Regions from separate parts of the Homo sapiens genome. Here region 2 is linked to region 1. Evidence: fine-mapped QTL for protein levels in blood plasma. Region 1 holds a variant in brackets. A gene starts in the other region. All regions are shown on their forward strands.

Region 1 (5,305 bases):
GGGACGGGGGCAGGAAGCGCAGCCGGAGCTGCAGATCTCGGCCGCGCCCCGCGGGCTCCAATCCCGAGCGTCCCCCGCACGCGCAGCCGCGCTCGCCCGCGGGGCCTAAGGGCTGCTCAGGGCGGAGACCCCGTAGGTGAGCCCGAGAGGCGGTGCGGGGCTGCGAACCCCGGAGCGAGAGAGGACTGGAGGGCGGGGTGAGGGGACGCGAGGACCCAGCCTGCACGGCGGGGCACCCTCCCCGCTGGCACCTACCACGTGGGCCTGCATGGCCTGGCTCTCCTCGGACGCCCCGCCCACGCCGGCTCCGCTCATCCCGCCGCTTCGGCCTACGGCGCCTGCGCGGGCGGCACCAGGAGGCGGGTCTGAGGCCAGGCAATCTCCGATTGGTGCAGAGCGGCGTCCATAGGGGTGGGCCTCCCGGAGGGGCGTGGAAGGGGCGGGGCTGCTCGGCGCGGGGCGGGGCCGGGAGGTCGCCGCCTCAGTCTTCCGCCCTGGGCCACGCCCCGGTCCCGGGTCACCTCTCGGAGCCGCCTCCTTGGCCCGTGGAAGCCTCCTGCTCTCCCCTAGGGCGCGCGTCACAATCTCTGGTCCCCCGTAGACGCCGCCGCGGGGAAGGCGGGGCTGTGCGAGGGCGCCGCGCTGCAAACCCAAGCCAGGCGGCCTGGAGTTGCTGTAAAGCCTCAAGCAAGGCTGATATGTAAAAGGTCGTTGCATTTCACCCGGGCTGTGGGCTGTGCTACTTGACCGGGGAGGACGAGGGGACTGCAGGGCGTCCTTTCAGACAGACGCGGTAGGGAGAGCAGGGCGTGCAGGACACTTGACGGCCCCAGGAGAGGGGTGAGGCCCTGACCCCACCGGGGTGTCATCCAGGAGGAAGGGTGCCCGGGGCGAGGTCCCCCAGGAGAAGTGCCCAGGCCTGAGGCCTTGACCCCACTGAGATGTCCCCCCAGGAGGAGGGGTGCCCGGGGTTAGCTCCCCTAGGAGGAGGGGTACCCGGGAGTGAGGCCCTGACCCCACCGCGAGGTCCCCCAGGAGGAGGGGTGCCCAGGAGTGAGGCCCTGACCCCACCAGGAGGTCCTCCAGGAGGAGGGGTGCCCAGGAGTGAGGCCCTCACCCCACCGTGAGGTCCCCCAGAAGGAGGGGTGCCCAGGAGTGAGACCCTGACCCCACCAGGAGGTCCCCCAGGAGGAGGGGTGCCCGGGAGTGAGGCCCTGACCCCACCGCGAGGTCCCCCAGGAGGAGGGGTGCCCAGGAGTGAGGCCCTGACCCCACCAGGAGGTCCCCCAGGAGGAGGGGTGCCCGGGAGTGAGGCCCTGACCCCACCGCGAGGTCCCCCAGGAGGAGGGGTGCCCAGGAGTGAGACCCTGACCCCACCAGGAGGTCCCCCAGGAGGAGGGGTGCCCGGGAGTGAGGCCCTGACCCCACCGCGAGGTCCCCCAGGAGGAGGGGTGCCCGGGAGTGAGGCCCTGACCCCACCGTGAGGTCCTCCAGGAGGAGGGGTGCCCGGGAGTGAGGCCCTGACCCCACCGTGAGGTCCCCCAGGAGAAGGGGTGCCTGGGGAAAGACATGACCTCAGTAGCTCCGGGTACCCTCCACCTTTGCCCTCATTTCCGCCTCCGCATGCAGCCTTGGGAACTGCAGGGCTGGGAACCCGGAGAAGGCGGCCGGGCTCTGGGGGAGCTCAGAGGTGGCCTTCCCTGCCAGGAACACAGGCCAGGCCCCATCCCTATCTAACCTTATACTTGAGGAGCACAGAGCGGATATCTCCAGATTTGAGTCCTGAACGCGCGGCCGGGAACCCCAGCAGTTCTGAACTTGTCAAGGGAGCAGCCTGCCATGAGGGGTCTCCCAGGCGGCTGTGAGGCCTCTGGAAACTCCCTGCTTGGAGGAGGTTGACTGGGGACAGGGCCGTGGGGGTCAATAAAAAGGACTGCTGCCATTAGCCCTGGGCTGCCTGCACACAGAGATTAAGCCCGCTTGGGATTTGTTCCAGCTGATCTGAAGTAATGAGTAATTCACAATTAATGAGCATGGCTGTAAGCAGCCCTTCCTGGACAAATCCTTGGCTGTCCAAAACTAAGATTAAATGCAAATCATTCTGTCAATTAACCGTTACAACAAAGCCAAACTTCTGTTAAGCATCACTTCATAGATGGTTTTTTTTCCCTTAAATTGCCTCCTTGTTTGCAAAGCCTGTTTTACAAGTGGACTGCTTAAGTCACATGAGTGAAAATGCAGCCTTATTTACCGTTCAGCAAAAGCTATCTGAGAATTTGCTTCCAGGGACTTCA[T/C]GTTCTCCAGAGGTTGGGGTACTAGGAATCATTTCATTGTAAAGGACTCAGTAAAAAGTAGCCCTGTAGCTGCCAGAATGCGCCGTAGGCTCATGATAAGGTAGGTGGTAAGGGCCAGAGGTCAGGGGTCACAGATGGCTTCTGCCCCTCCACAGCACATGGTGTCCAGAACTGGGCTTGCCTCTCACCTTCCTTCCTGTACATTTCCTGGTGCCAGAAATTTGCTTTTCACTGACTTCCCCCTAATTCAAATTTGATTAGAATCTCCTTTTTGGGAACATTCAAAGTGCCAAGGTGCGTTTCAGAAATGCAGGGTTGCAGAGGTGGGGTCCTGAAATCCAAGGGTGGTGGGGCCTGAGATCACTGCCCTCGCAGTAGGAAGATCCTCGGGGAGAGGTCAGCAGAGGGCCCGGACAGAAGGCACTGACACTGTACCCTGGAGAGAGACAGGAAGGAGGACCTGGGGCCTCAGAGCTGGCCGGGTGGAGATCGTGTGGTCTTCGTTCAGAGGGAAGTGAGGTGCTGATGAAAGATGATTGACGTCACGTGGGCACCAGCAGAGGAAGTGACACAAAACGCCCCACAGCTTTGGGTTCACTGAGTGGGCAGTTGTATTTATTTATTTTATTTTATTTTTGTAGAGATGGGGTCTTGCTGTTGCCCAGACTGGTCTCGAGCTCTTGGCCTCCCAAACTGCTGGGATTACAAGTGAGAGCCATTGCAGATAGCCAGTTTTCTTTATTTTTAATTGTTGTTTGTGCAAAAGGTTTTGGCGAATACTGGCTATATTCAGAGGACTCAGTACCAGTTGCCAGGGGCCTGGAGTAGGTGCTGTGGTCTCAATGTGTGTGTCCCCCCAAACCATATGTTGACACCTAACCCCCAAGGCGATGTGGTTAGGAGATGGAGCTTTAAGGAGGTGACTGGGCCGTGAGGGCTGTCCTCTCATGACGGACGAGTGCCCTTCAACGAGACTTGAAGGAGCCCTTCTGTCCCTTCCTCCACGTGAGGACACATAGAAGGTACCATCTCTGGGGAACAGGCTGTCACCAAACACCAAGTCTGCTGGCGCCTGGATCCTGGACTTCTCAGCCTCTACAACTGTGTGCAATACATTTCTACTGTTTATCAATCACATGGTCAGAGGTATTTTGTTACAGCAGCACAAATGGACCAAGACATCAGGTCTCCAAATCGAAGAACTTCTCAGCAGCCTTCAGTGCTGGGTGGGGAGACAGAGGTTCCCTGCAGGTCCCCACAGACAGTGTTAGACTCAGTGCTGGGTGGGGAGACAGAGGTTCCCTGCAGGTCCGCACGGACGGTGTTAGACTCGGTGCTGGGTGGGGAGACAGAGGTTCCCTGCAGGTCCGCACGGACGGTGTTAGACTCGGTGCTGGGTGGGGAGACAGAGGTTCCCTGCAGGTCCGCACGGACGGTGTTAGACTCGGTGCTGGGTGGGGAGACAGAGGTTCCCTGCAGGTCCCCACGGACAGTGTTAGACTCGGTGCTGGGTGGGGAGGTTCCCAGCAGGTCCGCACGGACGGTGTTAGACTCGGTGCTGGGTGGGGAGGTTCCCTGCAGGTCCGCACGGACGGTGTTAGACTCGGTGCTGGGTGGGTTGACAGAGGTTCCCTGCAGGTCCGCACGGACGGTGTTAGACTGGGTGCTGGGTGGGGAGGTTCCCTGCAGGTCCGCACGGACGGTGTTAAACTCGGTGCTGGGTGGGGAGGTTCCCTGCAGGTCCGCACGGACGGTGTTAGACTCGGTGCTGGGTGGGGAGACAGGTTCCCTGCAGGTCCCCACAGACAGTGTTAGACTCGGTGCTGGGTGGGGAGGTTCCCTGCAGGTCCGCACGGACGGTGTTAGACTCGGTGCTGGGTGGGGAGACAGAGGTTCCCTGCAGGTCCCCACAGACAGTGTTAGACTCGGTGCTGGGTGGGGAGGTTCCCTGCAGGTCCGCACGGACGGTGTTAGACTCGGTGCTGGGTGGGGAGACAGAGGTTCCCTGCAGGTCCGCACGGACGGTGTTAGACTCAGTGCTGGGTGGGGAGACAGAGGTTCCCTGCAGGTCCGCACAGATGGTGTTAGACTCGGTGCTGGGTGGGGAGACAGAGGTTCCCTGCAGGTCCGCACGGACGGTGTTAGACTTGGGGGACACTGGGTCCCCAGTAAGAATGATTCTGATGTGAGTGCAGCTAGTGAGGGCTGAGTTCAAGCTTTAAAGACAAGAGCCCAACAGGTTCCTTCAACAGCCTGATCCCCTAGACCTTCGTGTGTCCAAGTCTCCAGAGGGGATGAACCTCAACAGACCTGGTTCGACCTCCCCTAGGCAGTGGGTGCTGCCTGGAGGGCAGGGTCGCTCGAGACTGTAGGAGACTCTGCACGTGGTGACCATAGCACCCCCATAATAAAGCAGCCCGTGAGGGCAGCCTGGCTGTTCGGCGATGTGTGCACTGAGGTCATCTCTCCTACTCTGTCTCAGCTATTTAAAGGCTGTGACTCACCATGTGGATTTAATGACTTATTAAGGAGTTGCAGCCCATGCTTTTTAAAAAAGTAATCTACAAAAAAATAAATGAAAAAGTCTTCAGGACAGTAGACTTAAGTGCGGATGTGGTCCCTCGAGTTCCATTTTTCAGCCGCCCACATTCCTGGGATTCAGACCTGTTGGGGATTGTAGGATTCTAGTTGCACAGGGAAACCCAGAGTCAATTCAGGAGGATAATTCTGAGCCAGGGGTGGGGGTACCGGCCTGGAGCTCCGGGGGGTACGGGCTGATCCTACGAAAGGAAAGTCAAGCCTGTGAATTGCAGAGCCTGGACAGAGAAGTTGAGGTGACGGCGTTCTGCAGATCCGTGAAATTCTATTACACGTCAGAGGGAAGGGACGGCCTCATGTGGCCCCTTGGAGGGACCAAGCCCTACCCAGCGCCTTGCCCAAGTCAGCACGCAGTCAGTGTTGGCTCCACCCACCTGCACCGTCAGGCCTTCTGGAAAGAGAAGGAGATCCGA
Region 2 (5,377 bases), not on the chromosome of region 1:
TTGAATTTGTAGGAAATAGTGGATTCCAGCATATTTGTTAAGTTAAAAAAGAAATGTGCAAAAGAATACCTATAGCATGCTTTTAAAATGTAATAAAAAAGGAGAACTAAGAAGACAAATGTGTAGCAGCTCATTTGAGCAAAACTAAGGACAAACCAGAAACTACTGAAATTGAGTACCTATGGTGGAGAGGATAGAGGTGATGGAGAGAAGTGACATTTCCCTTTTATTGTGTCTTTTTATATCAATCTGACATTTGGGACTACGTTAATGTTTTATTTAAGCAAAAAAAAATCAAAAAGATTGAGGGGAAACTAAAATAGAATACAAAGAGAAACAAATTAACAGTATTTTGAATGAATAACAATCACACTGAAGAGGGGGAATAATCTGAGTAACTTTGGAACACAACAATGCTGTTTTTATATTTTCGGGCTATAAACAAAATAAAACTTTAAAAACGAGTAGATTTGATTTCCATCATAGTATAGAAATAGCAATTTTAAACTTCTTTCTGTGTATTCTAGGATTAAGCAAATAAGTAAATATATTGTGGATCTAGGTGTCTCACTGTTGAAGAAGGGAGTTACACATGCAGAAAGAGGGAAGGACAGAATGAACTCTATGCTAACGGACTGAAATTGGAAGAATCACTGTGAATTCATGACATATATAAATATAGATATGGGAATGGATATACATATATATATATAATACATATCCTTGCTCTGTCTGCTGAGAGGGTGCGGAAACAATGATACTCCAATAAAAATGAACACACTTAGCATCCAATTCTGGCATCTAAATGCCATTCTCTGCCAGAAAGAACCAGCATTCCTTGGAGAAACAGCAAATTCCAGTGTCAGGTCTAGAGGTGAGTCTGGAGCATTTTTTTTTGTGTGTGTGCCAGAAAGTAAGGAAGTGCTCAAAGAACAATAAGAACAAGTCAAAATGACATAGGAACTATTTTGAGGGCTCCCACTGGCCCGATCAGGGAGAATTTAAGCATCAAAATAAATAATGGTAGCCATGAATTATGACCCATTGAGTAAATAAATAAAATTCATATTGATATAGTTTATGCTGATATAGATAAATGAATAAATAAATAGAGAAGGGAAAACTTTTATTTACAGTAAAATGCCAACAGATGAATATAGAAGTAATTATTAAATTAGGAAAAAACACCCTTTGACAACCATCATAGTAAAAATTGATTCAAGAAAGGATCATCAATAGACGCTAAAATTTGTGGGTAAAAATTTGATGAAAAAATGAGGAATTTACATAGTTTTAAAGTATCTCCCTATAAAATACTTATTAATTACAAAGGGAAAAATACTGAGTCTACACTAAGAAACATGGCAGGCACCATCTTAACTAAGTGATCAAAGTTACCACCACCAGTAATAGGACAAATAGACAACATATGCCTCCCCGTAAGGATAAGACATCCTTTCTGGTATTCCTGTCAAATAATTAGATTCAATAACCTGAATCTATCATGAAGAAATGATAGACAAATCCAAATTGTGGGGTGTGATCCTGTCTCCTGACATTACCATCCACGTATACTGCCCTCCTACACTGAAAAGGGCTGATCTGTACAATCAATTGGATATTCTGGAGTTAACATATTGTGATTTCTGAGGACAGGTCACAAAGGACATTATGGCTTCTTCTTTCTTGTTCTCAGAGACGCTAGCTGGCATGTCACGAGGACACTCAACACACAAGCAGCGAGCCCTATGGCAAAATCCACGTGGTGAAGAATGAAGCTTCCAGCCAAAGGCTGGTAAGTGAGCCATCTTAGATGTGGATTCGCCTATCCCAGTTAACCCTTCAGATGACTGCACCTCCAGCTGGTGTCTTAACTGCAATCTCCTGAGCGATCCCAAGCCAGAACCACCTGACCGACCCACAGAAACTGTGAGATCATAAATGTTTATTCTTGCTTTACACCACTACCTTCAGGGTAATTTGTTATTATAATAGATAACGGACTTAAAAGTCATTCTCCAAAAATAATTGTGGTGTATTCGTCAAAAATGTAAAGGTCATGCAATACCAAAAATGCTGAGGACATTTTTCCAGAATAAAGAACTGGGGGTGGGGGGAAGGCATAATGATCAAACACAATACATGATCCTGAAATGATTCTGGACCAGGAAAAACAAAGGTTGGTTTCTATTGTTGTTATTGTTTTTACCATAACACAGGTTATTGAGATGATTGTCAAAATTTAAATACAGATGGTAGCTTATAGTCTTGTGTCAATGTTAAGTTCTTATTTTTGATCATTGCACTCTAGTTATGGAACAGAAAGTCCTTAGTGAACCATTTAGAATAGGAATAAATGCTAGATGGTTCCAAAGTAATAATTATATAATTATAATTATATAATCACATATATGTACATATATGTCTATAGAGAAAGAATAGAGAATGGTAAAGAAAATACAGCAAAATGTTAACATGCAGAGAATCTGGGTGACAAGTATATGGGAATTCTCTGCAGTACTCTTGAAACTTTTCTGTAGAGATTACTTCAAAATAAAGAACAGAGCAGAAGTGGCTGCTGTTCCTAAATTCCCTAAGTAAACTTACACTGCTTTTTCAAACTGGGAGATGAATCCACTAATAGGTTTTGAAATGAGTTTGGTGGATTTCTAATAAGAATAGGATAGCCTAGCCTAGTCTAGCATAACACAGCATGGCACAGAGGACGAACATTGTAGATTACTAAGGGTGAGTACTAACTTGTGAAAGTTTTGTTTAAGTTCTAGTAAGAGAAACAAGTGAGTGTAGTGGGTTGCGTGGTCAAAAAAGTGGGGAAGCCACCGCAACGAGGGGTGAGTCTGAGCCAAAGAGTGGCTCAGAGCTCCCCGCCCACCTCGTGCCGGGCCGTCCCTCCCGCTTGTCCCACCCTCACCGGCGCCGCGTCAGCCCCCAGGCCGCCTGCAGGTGTGCGCTCAGAACTAGCACGTGTGCCGGACACTATTTAAGGGCCCGCCTCTCCTGGCTCACAGCTGCTTGCTGCTCCAGCCTTGCCCTCCCAGAGCTGCCGGACGCTCGCGGGTCTCGGAACGCATCCCGCCGCGGGGGCTTCGGCCGTGGCATGGGCGCCGCGGGCCTGCTCGGGGTTTTCTTGGCTCTCGTCGCACCGGGGGTCCTCGGTGAGCTGGGAGGGGGAGCACGGAGGTGGGGACGCGTCCCGGGCAGGGAAAGTTTCTGTGCCGCGATGCAAAGCAGGGGGCCAAAAGCGAGACGGTGGGGGCAGTGCTCGACGCGTGTCCGCCTCCCGCTAGCTTTGAGGGACCACTGCAATAAACCGCCTGGTCCTGATTGTCCCCACTGGCCCCTCCGGGAGCTGGGACCTCCAGAATTGGAGGCTGCGCCACAGAGGGGCGCTGTCTGGTCGGCCCGGTGTGGCTGGCGGCGTGCGGGTGCTCGCGGTCTCCTGCCGGGCTCCCCGCCCCCAGGATTCTGCAGGTGCTCATCGCTCTCTGGCCGGCGGTCAGCGCTACCGCTCGCCACGGGAAACCTACCCACTGCATGAGGCACCAGCTAGCCACGTGAGGCTGTTTCTGTACACCCGAACCGCGCTCTTGCCCAGCAAAAGCGGCAGAACCTCGGCTCCCTTCCCTAAATAAGAGTAAGACCTGGTTCCCAAGCATGGGTCTCAGATTTTCTGAACTCTAATGTGATATTGGTAGAGATCCTAAACATTAACCATCCGTAGTTATTTTTGAGACATGGATTAAAACTATTGTTTTCTTCTTGTTATTAACCTACTGTAATGGTGTGGACGTCCGCAAAGGTCTCATTCACCGTTTATTATATCTTTTTTTCCTCCAGATTGGCTTGATTTTAAAGAAAGATTATAATTAAGATTAGCGTCTCTTGGCTACAGGATGGGTCTAAGTTTCTAATTATCTCCACGGTACCGTGCATTCCTAGTTTATAAGACGTTTACTGTGTGCAGACCTCAATAACTGGGTGACTTTTGGCAAGTCATTTAGCTCCCTGATCTTCAGTTTCTTCATCTGTAAAATGAAACTAGTGATTAACTGGCCTTCCACCTCACTGAGCTGCCCTGAGCACAGATGAAACTAAGCAAAGAAAGTTGGATGTTAGTCGTTACTACTAAATATCAGTAATAAGCCTCCTGTACAGACTTGATTTTATGGAGCCAGCATTTAAGCTAACAAGCTGGGTGTCCAATTGTTTCTATGGACATCCAGCTTATTGAGGTGTCTGGAATACAGCACATATTAGTTTATTACAACTTTTTGCTTTCCTGACATTTTACTGTCTCCTGACCCTTAAACCTTTCTCCAGACCATTATCTTCATCTCTTTTCTTTTTCTGCATATTAACTCCCTTTGAACAAATGTATATTCACACTTTTTCTAAGAGCAGAGTACGTCCCTGACTTCTCACCTATTTCTAAATTTCAAAGAGGATATTATCAACTGAAAATCAAATTCTTCACCAGTCCTGCCAATTCAGGGCCACAGCAGCAGCATCATGTAGGTCACTTAACTGGAGCCCCATGAAATACCAGGTCTACCTATCAGCCATTCAAGCTACTGTGCTTCTGTTGTTTGTCCATTTCTCATTTTTGTACCAGTATTCCCATCCTAAGCATTATAATTACCTGTGTAACAACCTCATCTCTTTTAAGAGATTTTGGTTCTTATGATTGGAAAGGTTAAAGAGTGACCTATAGGTCACTTTCCAATTATGAAAACAAAAAATTAAGAAATATATATATTTTCATTATTTCACTCCATTGTTCAAAAATCTAAAAGGCCTCCAGTGGAAGAAAATCTGGTGTCTTCAGCCTTTCTAGCCCTTTGGAATGGGATCTCACCGAAGCTCACACCCCCTGATTTCTCCAGCTGCCTGTCTTGTATGCGCTGCTCATGGTCTTCCCCACCTGTCTCCCATGGCTCATGCTTTGCCCACTCTCCACTGCTAACTTTTACTGCTACTGCATGCTCTCCACACATCATCTCTTGGCCAGTTCCTGCACTTGAGTGTGCTTAATAAAATACTAAAGTACCTTTATAAAATGTAGGTTCCTGGTTCCACCTCCCCCTCCAGAGGTTCATAGGTTTGGAGTTAGCACAGGAAAGCTGAGGTTTAACAATCACTCTAGAAGATTCTGCAACAAGTATCTATAGGGCACACTGCTATAAGCAAAGTCAATGGAAGCAAATTTCCTTTTTAGTGTTTTCCTATTTTTCCTTTTGTCTATTTGCATAAACAGTTTCAAATTTCCTACACTTCTAGATTTTACTCAAGCCTTCAGTGGCCACCTAACTTTATCCTATGCTGAGAAAACAAAACCATGAAACAAGAATGCTCCCAT

Direction of the effects. Positions count from the first base shown, and alleles are read on the strand shown. Strength reflects both the effect of a copy and how common the allele is.
For the plasma level of the protein whose gene starts at base 3,028 in region 2, C is the low allele of the variant in region 1 and T is the other (moderate association).

The links. PIP is the posterior inclusion probability: the model's chance that the variant is causal. Protein levels are from antibody-based Olink assays in UK Biobank. Linkage for the fine-mapping came from a reference panel and not from the study's own genotypes, which makes the PIPs less certain.
Region 2: CR2 starts here. The variant in region 1 is fine-mapped to the plasma level of the CR2 protein (UK Biobank, PIP above 0.99).

The regions. Positions count from the first base shown.
Region 1 is chr17:83,051,482-83,056,786 of GRCh38, forward strand. QTGAL (queuosine-tRNA galactosyltransferase) reads right to left here and starts at 289. Exons shown (of 13, transcript NM_001009905.3): 1 at 256-289. The coding sequence starts at 270. All of the region lies in intron 1 of LOC124904094, which reads left to right. The variant T/C (reference allele first, on the strand shown) is at 2,295.
Region 2 is chr1:207,451,301-207,456,677 of GRCh38, forward strand. It overlaps CR2 (complement C3d receptor 2), which reads left to right and starts at 3,028. Exons shown (of 20, transcript NM_001006658.3): 1 at 3,028-3,176. The coding sequence starts at 3,119. RefSeq lists silencers at 2,867-3,096, 3,477-3,586.